Homo sapiens: one gene and its partner. The protein of the gene in region 1 interacts with the protein of each later gene in a pairwise test. Each region holds a gene or a part of one and is shown in the gene's direction. Other genes may lie near its edges. The genes, in order: MTR and MMACHC.

The links.
Region 2: the proteins of MTR (region 1) and MMACHC interact in binary tests that used the Homo sapiens proteins (3 or more experiments, as listed by UniProt).

Annotation. Positions count from the first base shown.
Region 1 is NC_000001.11:236,896,211-236,903,482, forward strand, and holds part of MTR (methionine synthase), read left to right. Parts: intron 1-795; coding exon 796-908; intron 909-1,347; coding exon 1,348-1,434; 3' UTR 1,435-7,272. UniProt on the Homo sapiens protein: Catalyzes the transfer of a methyl group from methylcob(III)alamin (MeCbl) to homocysteine, yielding enzyme-bound cob(I)alamin and methionine in the cytosol. MeCbl is an active form of cobalamin (vitamin B12) used as a cofactor for methionine biosynthesis.
Region 2 is NC_000001.11:45,495,587-45,503,310, forward strand, and holds the start of MMACHC (cyanocobalamin reductase / alkylcobalamin dealkylase), read left to right. Parts: upstream 1-4,713; 5' UTR 4,714-4,746; coding exon 4,747-4,827; intron 4,828-7,724. Other genes in the region: transmembrane protein CCDC163, read right to left, coding at 1,713-1,797, 3,759-3,857, 3,946-4,023. UniProt on the Homo sapiens protein: Cobalamin (vitamin B12) cytosolic chaperone that catalyzes the reductive decyanation of cyanocob(III)alamin (cyanocobalamin, CNCbl) to yield cob(II)alamin and cyanide, using FAD or FMN as cofactors and NADPH as cosubstrate.

The DNA of each region.
Region 1 (7,272 bases):
TCCTGGTTCTGTCATTACTGCAGAGTTCATGTAGTTGAGATGGCCCAGGCTAAGCTCACAGTTTTCAGCGGAATTAATAAAAAGCATGCCATCAAAGCTGATAAAGGCATCCAGATTTAAGTGAGAAACCATGAGCTGTGCTGAATCTGCTTCAGCAGGAACAACACTAACTCTAGGAGTCATGAGATCTGGGTTTGAGTCCTGTTTCTGCCATAAGCTAGCTGGGCGACCTCTGGCAAAGCACTCACCCTTCATGTTGCTCTGTTTCCTTGTTCATAGAATGAGTGGCTTCGAATAGATATCCTTGAGGGTCTGTTTGAGCTCTCAGATCCCAAGGAAAACTGTCTCTTCTTTCTCACAATGTTGTGGGTTCCTTCTTCACTGGAGCTCTCAGTCGTCCCTAGTATCAGTGGCCGCACAGAGCCGGTGGAGGCTGTTCAGTTGTTGTTCTCATCTCCAGGGGTAGAGCTCCTGCCTGAGAAGGTCTAGGCTTAGGAGCAAATTAGGGCACCTGTAACTGATCTGGGATGGCTGGAGGTGGGAGTGTAGAGTCTTTCCCAGGCCTGTCCCCCTGGGTTAGAGGAGATCTGCATGTCCCGAATTTGTTTCTTCACCTGGCAGGAATTTGCTAGACTTCTCTGATCACAGCTTTCATGCTGTGTCATGTGTCTACCTAGAAGGCATGAGCTCGCTTTGGTTCACTTGTTCAACAAGAGTTCATTGAGTGCCTGCTAGCTGCAGGCCCTGTGCTAGACACTGAGTCCATAAGCATTTTCCCTGTGTTGCTCCCTCTAGGCATTAGGTTAACAGAATCATTAGCAATGGCACCTGCTTCAGCAGTCTCAGGCCTCTACTTCTCCAATTTGAAGTCCAAATATTTTGCTGTGGGGAAGATTTCCAAGGATCAGGTAAGCTAGCTGTTGCATTATATGTGGCTTGCCTAGTTCAAATGAAATTCTAGAACCTCTCTCATTTTAAATGTGAATGAGAATAAAGTGAGGGGAAAGGATGAAGAAATTTACTCCAGTTAATGTCTTAATTTGATTTCAATAGAATACCTCTATTCTAGCCCTCACTTCTACATGCAAGCCACACACACGCACACACACACACACACACACACACACACACACATACAGCTTCTAAGCATCAGATGTTTACTACATGTTTTTCTGCCCAGAGAAAAAGGCAACTTGGTAGATAAATATCTATCTCCATTTAACTCTGTAGATTGCTATTAAGACAAGAAATGCAAGGTACTTAATGTTTCTTGGCAAATCTTGTGGAAACTTCTATTCCAAAAGTCTTATCATGTTGGTTTAATAAAATGCTTCTCATCTTTTGCAGGTTGAGGATTATGCATTGAGGAAGAACATATCTGTGGCTGAGGTTGAGAAATGGCTTGGACCCATTTTGGGATATGATACAGACTAACTTTTTTTTTTTTTTTGCCTTTTTTATTCTTGATGATCCTCAAGGAAATACAACCTAGGGTGCCTTAAAAATAACAACAACAAAAAACCTGTGTGCATCTGGCTGACACTTACCTGCTTCTGGTTTTCGAAGACTATTTAGTGGAACCTTGTAGAGGAGCAGGGTCTTCCTGCAGTGCCTGGAAAACAGGCGCTGTTTTTTTGGGACCTTGCGTGAAGAGCAGTGAGCAGGGTTCCTGTGGTTTCCCTGGTCCCTCTGAGATGGGGACAGACTGAAGACAGAGGTCGTTTGATTTCAAAGCAAGTCAACCTGCTTTTTTCTGTTTTTACAGTGGAATCTAGGAGGCCACTTAGTCGTCTTTTTTTCCTCTTAGAAGAAAAGCCTGAAACTGAGTTGAATAGAGAAGTGTGACCCTGTGACAAAATGATACTGTGAGAAATGGGGCATTTTAATCTAAGTGGTTATAACAGTGGATTCTGACGGGGAAGGTGTAGCTCTGTTCTCTTCGGAAGACCTCGTTTTCTAAAGGCTGGACTAAATGGCTGCAGAACTCCCTTTGGCAAAAGGCATGCGCTCACTGCTTGCTTGTCAGAAACACTGAAGCCATTTGCCCCAGTGTGGTCAAGCAGCCATGCTTTCTGGGCATTTTCGTCCTCCCATAATTTCATATTTCCGTACCCCTGAGGAAACAAAAAGGAAATGAGGAGAGAAAGTTACTGTTAAGGGTGGTTAACATTTTTTTTGTTTTGTTTTGTTTTGGTTTTTTTTTTTTTGAGACAGAGTCTGGCTCTGTCGCCCAGGCTGGAGTGCAGGGGCGCAATCTCGGCTCATAGCAAGCTCCGCCTCCTGGGTTCATGCCATTCTCCTGCCTCAGCCTCCAGAGTAGCTGGGACTACAGGTGCCCGCCACCACACCCGGCTAATTTTTTGTGTTTTTACAAAATACAAAAAAGTAGAGACAGGATTTCACTGTGTTAGCCAGGATGGTCTTGATCTCCCGACCTCGTGATCTGCCCACCTCAGCCTCCCAAAATGCTGGGATTACAGGCGTGAGCCACCGAGCCTGGCCGGTTAACATCTTTTAATTGTTTCCAGGATTGAGCAGGTTCTCAGCTGGGCTCTGATATCCCGTGCGGAGTTGGACAAGTGGGCAGCATAAAGTCACTCATTTCTTACCATTTTATTCCCCTCAATTCTCAATATATTCAGTAATGAAGAATGGTGCCACCACTCAAGCAACAAGCCTCAAACTCAACCATGTCATCTTTTTCTTGGATGATTGCAGTTATTTCAAAAATTTGCATGCAAAATATACACTCATCCTACTTCAAGATGGTGGTGGCAATAGTCAGGAGAAGGTAACATTGGAGTCCTGGTTTGATTCGAAGGATGAAGACGAAGAAGCAAGGGAGGAACAAATGAAGAACCATCTTTGTTCATGAATAGGAATATTCAAGATTATAAAGGTATCAGGTCTCCTAAAATTGATCTATGGATTTAATACCATTTTCAATGGAAATTCCAACAGATTTTATTGAATGAAACAAGCAGGTGTTTATATGGAGTAGCAAAGGACTTAAAATTACCAAATGCTTCTAAATATGAAGGAGAGGTTGGGGACACGCACCCTATGTGATACCAAGTTTTATTGTCAAGACAGTGTCATGGTGCAGAGGTAGGCATTCTGAGCAGGGGAACAAAATAAGGGCCTAGAAACTCACCCGTGCATATGTTGACCTTTGCAAAATGACCTGGTGACATGGCAAGTCAGTGGGGACAGGAAGGACCACTCCCTAAGTAATCCCAGAACAATGGCTATTCATGTGGGAAAAAAAGAAATTTTACTTTCTCTCACCTTACCTGGTGATAAGTTCCAAATATGTTAAGGGCTTTAATACAAAAAGCAAAAATTGTCAGTGTTTGGATGAAAAAAGCCTTAGGGCAGGAAAGAATCTCTTGAGACATAAAGTAGTAATCATAAAGGACAAGATGGTTAAGTCAATTCTGTTAAAACTCAAGGCTTATATTAAGCAAACACTTGAAGTGAGAAGATGATCCACAACTTGAGAAGACATTTATAATACAAATAACTGATGAAGGATTCATAATCACAAATATAGAGAATTCCTATTTAAAAAAATAGAAAAATAGTGAAGACTACACAAGAGGAAATAGGGCTTTTAAATAAATAGATGTTCTGTAGCATTGGTCAGGGAAATATGAATTAGGACCACAATGAGATTCCATTTTATATCCATAAGATTTGCAAAGGTTGGGTCTGACAGTACCAGTTGTTAGATCTGTAGGGACTTGTACAACATTGTGGATGTGTAAACAGGCACCACTGCTTTAAAAAACAATTATCCCTTACAGACTTGAACATTTGCAGACGTTATGATCTTGCTTCCAACTCCCACCTGTATGTCCAGCAAACTCTTGCATGTGGCCACTAGGAGGAATGTGTAAGAATGTTCATAGTTACATATTTATAATAGTTAATAACTGGAAAAAGTGAAATGTATGTCTGTCTACAGGAAAATAGGTGAATAATTAGATATATATATTCATTCTACGGGATATTATTCAGTAGTGGAAATGAGTGAACTACAGCTATACCTCACAATAAGAATGAATCTCAGAAAATATTAAGGAAAAAAGCAAGTTTGAAGAGACCACATGGGGCGTACTATTTTTATTGAGCCCAAAAACAAGCAAAACCAAAGAATATGTAGTCTAAGCATACGTATACAATAAAACTATGCTATTAAAAAAAAAGAAGGTAACTGATAAACCAAAATTGAGCATAGTAATTACCCACAGAAGGAGGAAGTGGAAGGGACAGGAGCACATAGGTAGATGCCAAGTTATGCAGCTGTTCTGGTTCCTCCTGGTAGGCTTACAAGTGTTTACTATATGCTATTAATACATTATACTTTATAACTAATAGATAACAGTTTTTTACATATTAAATATGTTCTACTTAAATATATTATAAAAAATAAAGGCAAAGTGGAATGATAACCTAAAATCTGGTATGGTGATTTTGTAGGTAATGTTTGTATATGTCAAATACAGTTTTTAAGGAAAGGAAGAACATCTTAGGGTAAACAGCAGCTAGAAAGGTGAGGGGCAGGAGAGTGGTGCATCCTTGCTGCTGCCAGCAGTGCCCAGATACCAGGCTTTGGGGAATGAGTGGATGGCTGGACCATTTGCTAAGACAGAGGCCAGGGGATGGGAGAAATGATGAGTTTTGGAAAGATTCGATGTGACTAGACTGAATATAGGCAGTTGGATACTAGACTTTGGAATTTAAAAAGAATGTCTGGAGTTAGAATTGAGAGACTTGAACGTGGAGATGGAGGTCAGGCTGCAGTGCGATGGGATCATCTATGGAGCATATGAGGAGAAGAGAATCTGGAGGAGGAGGAGGGGGAGCCAGCAGGGGAGCAGCTGTGGGTTGGAGGAAGCCAGGAGGGAGAGTGCAATGCCGAGAAAGCAATGAAGAGCGTTTCGAAGCATGCCAGCAGAACCCAATGCTGCAAAGAGGCCTGGGAATGGGATTGCTGAGGGCCCTTCTCACAGTGAGCCCCTCAAGAGCAGCGTCAGGGGATTGTGGGGACTGTTGGCACACAGCTGGCTTTGCTAGGTTGAAGACAATGGGAGGTGTGGAAGACTTGTTGACTCATTTAAAGAAGATTGGAGGGAAAGGTAGGATTGAGAGTGTTTCAGACAGAAAAAGGATTATATGCTGAGGGTAAAGCACAAGTACAGAGGGTTGCAGATAGTGCAGAAGTCTTTAAAAACAATTATTTTAACCCAACTTCCAGGGAGACTGAATTTCTTCTGCCAGTCAGTAACACCATCAACCTGGGAGTTGCCCCTGACCCCTCCAGTCTTAGCTCCTGCTCCTGTAACAAAATACCACAAACTGGTTAGCTTATAGAGAACAGATGTTTATTTCTTACAGTTCAGGAGTCTGGAAGTCCAAGATCATGGTGCCATCATGGCCGAGTTCTGGTGAGGGCCCTCTTCTGGGATGCAGCGGCCAGCTTCTCATGTTCTCACAGTGGGTGGAGGGTAAGCTTGCTCTCTGGCCTCCTCTTAAAAAGGCACTAATCCCATTCATGAGGGCTCCACCTTCATGACCTAATTACCTCCCAAAGATGCCATCTCCAAACACCATCATTCTGGGGATTCCATTTCAACATGATTTGGGGGATACATCAGACCATAACACTTTTCTTTTTCTCAACCTTCACATCCAGTTGGTTCTCAAGCCCTGGCGATTTTACGCGCTAGATAGGTCTTAAGTTCATCTCTACGCCTGCCCTGGTTAAGGTTCTCATCATTTCTCCTCTGGATTCATCTGCAACACAGGCTGCCGGGTTGGTTCCCACCTCCTAGAGCTGGAAGAGTGGGCTCTCTGATTCTTTACACCCCCGCCTCAATCCTCCTGCTGCCTGAATAACCATCTCCCCGTGACCTAGGATATATCCCAGCCCCTTAGAGGCATGCAAAGCCTTCCATGTCTGACCCTGCCTCATGTCTTGGAAGCCCTAGACTGCTGCTGTACCCTGAAGGAGGTACCTGCTCACATTGGCCCCTCTGTCTGGAATAACCCCACCCCGGTTCCACCCAAGTCAGGAAAGCTTCCCAACCCCTCCCTCCCACCACCCCAAAGCTAAGTGAAGTGACCCCTCTTCTTGCCTCTGTAACACCGCCATGCACATTTCATACAGCCCTTGCTGAAACTTCATCTAGTTCTCTGTTAGACTTAACATTCCCTAAGGGCAGGTTTGGAACCTTACTCATCTTTATATGGCGTCTAAAATAGTGCTTGCTTTATGATAGGTGCTCAGTAAAGGTTGTCTTGAATTGAGCAGATCCTCTAGGGACAGGAGTTGGATGGAGAGCAGACTGTAAAGCCTCATGAGGGCAGGGGCCCTGCCTCTTCCTGAGCTCAGGATACCCAGAGCCTAGCTCAGTGCCTGCCATGAAATTGTTCACTCCATCAAGCCTTGTTAAATGAGTTCGGGGCGGGGGGAGCATGATGGTTTTCTCTCTCTCAGAAAGAAAGCGCTGTATCAAAGCCCTAGCACCCTCTCTACACCCACCTTCAGTATTTCATATTAGATGCGGCCCAAGTGATACTTTCTTTACCGTCCCGTGAAGACAGCATATTGGCAGCCCTGCAAAAACAAAACAAAACAAAACCCTCAGTTCATGGCATACTTGCTATAAATCAGCTATGTGTATTGTCAAATTGTAGAACTGAAAGTATATTCTGATTCGGTGTGTGTATAAGGAAATATACACCAGTATATGCATTAAAACGTCAAGAAGAGCTGGGCACAGTGTCACATGCCTGTAAACCCAGCTATTCAGGAGGCTGAGGTGGGAGGATCGGTTGAGGCCAGGAGTTTGAGGCTGCAGTGAGCTATGATTGCACAGCTGCACTCCAGCCTGTGCTGAGACCTCATCTCTTAAAAAATAAAAAATAAAAAGTCTAAGAGGATACACAGAAATTTTTAAGTGGTTACCTCCACGGAATGGGATTAGGGGATCAGAGGTGAGGGAACTCATGGTTTGGCTATTTCTCGTTCTTTCTGCACTGTTTCAAATTTTTACAAGTGTATGTTATTGTACTTTTAAAAAGATTAGCTTGGCAACAAGTCTAGCCTGAAATGGGTGCTATTTTGACTAGTCTGAGTGAAAAGTGAGGATTTAAATGAAGTAACCCCTAAACTCAGCCAGTCCCATGTTTTTTTAACACTTGGAATATCTAATTCCATTTACACTGCATTCTTCAAATGTAATTTTCAAAGATGCCTTTTGCCTC
Region 2 (7,724 bases), about 190 Mb from region 1:
GTATCAAGGGGGCCCTTCCAACACAGAACTGTCCTCCTTCCTCAGGCTAGGACTCTGGTCTCCTCCCTCTTTTTTTTTTTTTTTTTTTTTTTTTTTTTGAGATGGAGTCTCACTCTGTCACCCAAGCTGGAGTGCAACGGCATGATCTCAGTTTACTGCAACCTCCACCTCCTGGGTTCAAGTGATTCTCCCACCTCAGCCTCTCGAGTAGCTGGGATTACAGGCACCCGCCATCATGCCCGGCTAATTTTTGTAGAGATGGGGTTTCACCATGTTAGCCAGGCTGGTCTTGAACTCCTGACCTCAGGTGATCCGCCCACCTCGGCCTCCCAAAGTGCTGGGATTATAGGCGTGAGCCACCGCGCCCTGCCAATCTCTCCTCCCTCTGTAACATCCAAACATACAAAGGTACCTCACTGACTCTCTATCAGGTAAAGAATGCCTTTATGGGATACAACCCAGATACTCATACTACCCCAAAAGCCCAAGTCAAATCTAGGATAGCTGAACTTTGGTCCCCAGTGCCCGACCTGTGAGACAATTTCCCTCCAATGGCACAGCACCCATACCCCCTGACCTAAGGAGGTTGTGCTCCCTCCAGGCATCTTGGTCCTCTGTCCTGGTAGCCTCCAGGGTATGACCCTTGCCTTCCTGGCCACTTTGCAACTGCTCTAACATCTGCCAGATCATGGGCTCAGGTGGAACCAAACCTCTCCCTCTCTCCCTCCCCATGACTGTCCTCTTCAGCACACTTGGAACCCTCATGTCGGCAAGGATAGTTTCTCATGGCCGGGAGCAGAAAGGTTAGAAAGAAGAGCTCTGGAGAGAGAGAGAGTCAGCACAGGGAAGAGAGGAATGAAGACAGGGGCAGGAGAGGGTATCCTGGCCTCCCTGCAGAACAGGATAGACAGAGAAAGGAAAGGTCCTCCATAGAGAAATATGCAGAGACAAGTCTGAACCTAGTCCTACCTTCCAACTGCCAACCTGAGCCTGTCGTCCCTCAGCCAGCTGTTTCAGCAGCAGCTCCTGGTGCTGGCCTGCAGATGAGAGAGAATGTAAGGGGGCTGTTCCCCAACTTCTTTCCTTCTCCCTCCCTGCCTGTGACCAGCCTGCTGCCAAAAACTGAGACAGAAACATTCTGGCTCAGCCATTGGGACGCTTCCAAGCTGACTGAAGAGATTAAACTCACACCATGAGAGACAAAGAGTGCAACAAAATACTTGGCCACACTTCTCAGTAGCTCAGGCAGTTGGAGCCATGGCCACTTAATGGGAGAGCAAGAAGACTTTCCAGGCCAGGCGCAGTGGCTCACACCTGTAATCCCAGCACTTTGGGAGGCCAAGGCAGGCGGATCATCTGAGGTCAGGAGTTCGAGACCAGCTCGGCCAACATGGTGAAACCCCATTTCTACTAAAAATACTAAAAATATGAAAAAAAGTGGCTGGGCATGGTGGCGGGCACCTGTAATCCCAGCTACTCAGGAGGCTGAGGCAGGAGAATCGCTTGGACTCGGGAGGCAGAGGTTGCAGTGAGCCAAGATTGCGCCATTGCAACACAGCCTTGGCAACAGGCAACAGAGCGAGGCTGGGCAACAGAGCAAGACTCCATCTCAAAAAGAATAAAAATAAATAAAAATAAATAAAAGAAGAAGATGACTTTCCAGAAAAGGGGACAAGGAAACGCATATTCGCCCCCAACCACCTTTTACTTACTCAACTGGTACTGCAGCAACTTCAATTCCTTCTGCATAATCTCTGACTCCTCCCACAGCACTGCAGGAGTGACAGCAGTGCTATTCTAAAGTCAATCAACAAATCCAGAGTAAGAAGGCAAGTAGAGTATCTAGGGTCTTGTGAAACTCTTAGAGAGGATGATCCCCAACTTGTCCCACTACAAATGCCAAAAGTTCAAAGGCCTCAAGAAGGCAAGGCCGCACTCAGTGCTCAATGGCGCCCAGGCTGGAGTGCAGTGGCGTGATCTCGGCTCGCTACAACCTCCACCTCCCAGCCGCCTGCCTTGGCCTCCCAAAGTGCCGAGACTGCAGCCTCTGCCCGGCCGCCACCCCGTCTGGGAAGTGAGGAGCGTCTCCGCCCGGCAGCCACCCCGTCCGGGAGGGAGGTGGAGGGGGTCAGCCCCCCGCCAGGCCAGCCGCCCCGTCTGGGAGGGAGGTGGGGGTGTCAGCCCCCCGCCCGGCCAGCCACCCCATCCGGGAGGTGAGGGGTGCCTCTGCCCGGCCACCCCTACTGGGAAGTGAGGAGCCCCTCTGCCCGGCCACCACCCCGTCTGGGAGGTGTGCCCAACAGCTCATTGAGAACGGGCCAGGATGACAATGGCGGCTTTGTGGAATAGAAAGGGGGGAAAGGTGGGGAAAAGATTGAGAAATCGGATGGTTGCCGTGTCTGTGTAGAAAGAAGTAGACATGGGAGACTTTTCATTTTGTTCTGTACTAAGAAAAATTCTTCTGCCTTGGGATCCTGTTGATCTGTGACCTTACCCCCAACCCTGTGCTCTCTGAAACATGTGCTGTGTCCACTCAGAGTTAAATGGATTAAGGGCGGTGCAAGATGTGCTTTGTTAAACAGATGCTTGAAGGCAGTATGCTCATTAAGAGTCATCACCACTCCCTAATCTCAAGTACCCAGGGACACAAACACTGCCGAAGGCCGCAGGGTCCTCTGCCTAGGAAAACCAGAGACCTTTGTTCACTTGTTTATCTGCTGACCTTCCCTCCACTATTGTCCTATGACCCTGCCAAATCCCCCTCTGTGAGAAACACCCAAGAATGATCAATAAAAGAAAAACAAACCCAAAAAAAAAAAAAAAAAAAAAGAAGGCAAGGTCTTGACTATCCCTTACTCAGTCTGCAGCTCCTGAGGAAGGCCATTGGTAGTACTGCATTCTCCTGGTCCTGTTTGCATCTGGGCTTGGGCTTGGGCTTGGGTTTGCTCCCACACCTGGCTCTGAAGGCCCTGCAGTTCCTTTCTCAGCTCCTCCAGGCATTGCTCCAGGAGAAAAGCACTCCCCTTTGGGGCCCCCTGCAGCAACCTTAGTGATGCTGTAGTGGGACAAGTTAGGGATCATCCTCTCTAAGAGTTTCACAAGACCCTAGATACTCTACTTGCAAAACAAGACACATGTGCACACACAACAGGTGTGTGGCAAAATTGTGTGCATACATATGAAGCTGTGTATATGAAGAAAATAACTGGCCAGATACCTTCCAGGACACTGATCTGGTACTTCTGCTGCTCTCGCTCTTCTAGCAGGCCCTGCACTGCCTGCCTTAGTGCCTGTCACCTCCCCAGGCAGAAAAAAGCACATGAACTACTGTATAACAGCTTTTCCCGACCCCTAGTATCCTCATCTTACACAAACATCACATATACACACCAAGGATTCCAAGCCTCACCTGAGCCTGACATTGAAATTAGGATCAGAGAATAGCAACCTCACCCCAGAGAGAGGATGGGCTCTAGGACTCAGGGCAGCTCAGCCTTTGTGGAACTATGGGAGTCTCTAAAGCCCAAGGCTGTTGAGCTTGGACTCCTGACTGCAGAGGCAAGTGATGAGAGGAAATCCAGGTCCCAGCCAGGTCCCCGGCTGAGGAAATAAGGAAGGGTTAAGTGCAGGGTCTGTGTGGGGAAACAGAGTTCAGGAAAGGACAGAGTTGGAATTTGGAAGGAATAATGGATGATACGGGCACTGGAGGAAGGCACAGAAAGAGAAAGGGCTTGGAAGTAGAAAGAGACATTACTTACCTGCGGTGGAGACCCCAAGAAGATACAGCCACTGCTACAGAAGAAACAGATGCACAGGCCAATGAGCTCTGTGGAGACCCCAAGAGGATACAGCCACTGCTACAAAAGAAACAGATGCACAGGCCAATGAACTCTGAGAGTCCCTTAGCCTCCCCACGCAAACTGGGGACCTCCACCAACCCCTCACCTTATTCCGGACCACATTTCCATCAGTAGCGTTGAGAAGCACATCCAGCTGCTCAAACCAGCTGAGGCTCGTATTCATATCCTGTGGCAGGGGAGCGGCAGGGGTCTGGCTCCCTGGTGTCTTGTGCTTGCTCTCCTAGCGGGGGATACCCAAGGTATCCCCAGGAAAGGCCACCACGTTAGATGGAAAGAGGGAAGTGGGGATGCAACACTGGGGTAGGTGGATGCACTATCAGACCAAAACTGCGATCCTGTGACTAGGGAAAGGAAGGACGCTCTTGGGGAACTGGGGGAAAAGCGGGATACCGTGATGATACGCAGATATCAGGTGGGGATTGAAGGTGCCAGAACCTGGTTGAGACCTCCCCAGAAGTAGTACACTGGCGCCACCACGCCAAACCTGTGCCAGTGACAACTGCCGCCGCCGGGTTCAAAACTTCGGGTTGGTTTTGAAAGTCCGACTTTGGACTGGCTGCCGCAGCGCCACCTGGGAAACTGAGGTCGCCTCTTGCGAACACAACCGGCGATGGAGGCGGTGGAACTACCTTTCTCTAGAAGAGACACGTACATGCACACCCCCACCGTGTAGCTTGCCGGGAAACTGAGTCTTCCTGATTTCGTGTGGCTGTCTCCAAGGAGGAAACGAACTACGCATCCCAAGATGCATCGCGCATAGGCAATATGGTCCCGCTACTGGACCCATTTCCTACCTGGGAAATGGAGTCGAAGCTGACTCAAAACGTAACGGCCCAATTGTCCTTGAGACTTCATTCCCCAGCAAGCTCAGCGTGTAACGTGCGCTATGGAGCCGAAAGTCGCAGAGCTGAAGCAGAAGATCGAGGACACGCTATGTCCTTTTGGCTTCGAGGTTTACCCCTTCCAGGTTAGTTTATCCCTCCTGCTGTTCTAGGGCGAAATATATGATTGGCTTCGTTGCAACTGGCGTGAGGCCTCGGGAGCCTCTGATCCTCCTGGGTTCCTGCAGCCCAGTGTCCATGTGACAACAGGGACAGAGTTTCAGTGGGGGCTTGGGTTAAAAAGGTAGTGGTCGAGGCCGGGCATGGTGGCTCACGCCTGTAATCCCAGCACTTTGGGAGGCCGAGGCGGGCGGATCACCTGAGGTGAGGAGTTCGAGACCAGCCTGGCCAACATGGTGAAACCCCATCTCTACTAAAAATATAAAATTAGCCGGGCGTGGTGGTGCATGCCTGTAATCCCAGCTACTCGGGAGGCTGAGGCAGGACAATTGCTTGAACCCATGAGACGGAGGTTGCAGTGAGCCGAGATTGCGCCATTGCAGTCCAGCCTGAGCAACAAAGAGCGAAACTCCGTGTCAAAAAAAAAAAAAAAAAAAAAAGTTGTCGCATGTTTAACCTTTTGCCACCATATAATGCCGGATTCGTTAACGGGAGACACCATATGACCTGTAGCGTGTGTGGCTCAGATTGTCACCTATATAATTTACAAGAAGAAAGGGACCTGTGAGGCAAAGTCACCTTGGAACTTCCTAAAGGATTTAGGAGAGGGCAAAGCCTAGAAGGTTTGCATAGCTATCATTTAGGTCAGCTGAGGAAGGAAGGGCATTCCTGGTGATGAACAGGCAAACAATTGGCTGGTTTGTTCCCTCTACCAACAGAAGGATAATTCATGATATTTCCAGTCATCAGTGCTGGGCTGGGTAATGAAACTTTGTACACTTGCCTGGCACAGCAGTCTCAGCACCGCACCCCGACCCCCATTTACACGGTTACATTTCCCCACATCAGTGCCCTGTGCACTGAGCAGTTAAGTTACAAAGCTAAATCAGCTCAGCTTGAGCCCTTTGCCTGATGCTTAAGAGACTACCCACTTCCCATTCCTTCTGCTGAGTGGCTCACAGCAGTCCTGGGAGAGGATATAGAGGGAGAAGTAGGTTGGGTCTAGCTTGAGACTGGTCTTGCCAGAAAAAATGGAATTGAGCTATATATGAAAAGATAGATTGGAAGGAAGGAGGGTTATGTACATCCCAAATATCAGAAAAAGCTTGAGTAAAGGTGTGGAGATAGTGGTGTGGTGTTACCAAGTAAAAGGGCTTGATGCCTGATGTGCTGGAAGCTAATATTATGACACTGGGTTTTTGAGAAAACAAAAGCTATTTGTTGCAGATCGACCTTTAACTCTTTGAGACACCGTTTCAGTGGATGGCAGGTGTGTGGGAGAGTGAGAATGCCTATCTGGCAAGTTGAGTAGACCTGGGTATTAGGAGCTTTTGTACTGAACAAAGCCAACTGCAGCCCTGCCAGTCACCCTAGGCTCCTACCTCTCACCTCCCTACCCCCACATCCAATCAGCCACCAAGACCTATAAGACTGTCTACTGAATCTCCCAAATCCATTCCCTTGTATTCCACCCATCTATGCTGTGGTCCAGGCCACCATTTCTCACTTGGATTACTGTAATAACCTCCTTGCTGTAATTTTACCTCCAGTCCCTCCTCCACACTGCAGCCAGTGTGATCTAAAAATGATCATGCTAGTTTACTCCTTAAATCTTCAGTGGCTCTTCACTGTCACCAAATTAAATCCATATTCCTTAAATTGGTATTCAAAGCCAATCAAAATCTCACTCCTATTGATCTCTCCAGCCTTCTCTCCCTCTGATTCCCTCTACAGACCCTTCACTTCCACCAAACTAGACAATTCTCAAATATACCCAGGAATTTTCTGCCAGTGTGTTTGCTTATGCTGTGACTTGTTTATTTTATTCTTTATTTATTTAGAGACAAAGTCTCACTCTGTCCTCCCGGCCGGAGTGCAGTGGTGCAATCATAGCTCACTGCAGCCTCAAACTCCTGGGCTCAAGTGATCCTCCCACTTTAGTCTCCCAAGTAGCTGACTCCAGGCATGCACCAACACTCAGGGTCTCACTTTGTTGCCCTGGCTGGTCTTGAACTCCTGGCCTCAAGTGATCCTCCTGCTTCGGCCAGCCACCCAAAGCACTGGGATTACAGGCATGAGTCACCGCACTCAGTCTGTGACCTCTTTTTAAAATACACACCAGTGAGTTTATGTGTTTTTTGGTGAAATATAAATAATAAATAAATGCACACCAGATTCTCCTCCCTACATCAACCTGACAGTTGACCAGTTGACTTTCTAGCCTTCAAGACTTAGCATCCAAGGAAGCCTTTTCTTTTCTTTTTTTTTTTTTTTGAGATGGAGTTTCGCTCTTGTTGCCCAGGCTGGAGTGCAATGGTGCGATCTCAGCTCACCACAACCTCTGCCTCCCGGGTTCAAGTGATTCTCCTGCCTCAGCCTCCAGAGTAGGTAGGATTACAGGCATGTGCCAACATACCCGGCTAATTTTGTATTTTTTTTAGTAGAGACAGTTTCTCCATGTTGGTCAGGCTGGTCTTGAACTCCCGACCTCAGGTGATCTGCCTGCGTTGGCCTCCCAAAGTGCTGGAATTACAGGCATGAGCCACCATGCCCGGCCACAAGGAAGCCTTTTCTAATTTCAGAGGACCCTTATCTGACCCTGTCATTGCACTAGCTATAGTACAGTCATTTCTATTGTTCTTAGTGGTTCTGCCTATTAGAACTTTCTGCAGCCAGGCGTGGTGGTTCTCACCTATATCCCAGCACTTTGGGAGGCCAAGGTGGGTAAATTACTGGAGGTCAGGGGTTCAAGACCAGCCTGGCTAACATGGTGAAATCCCGTCTCTACTAAAAATACAAAATTAGGTGGGCGTGGTGGTGTGCACCTGTAATCCCGGCTACTCGGGAGGCTGAAGCAGGAGAA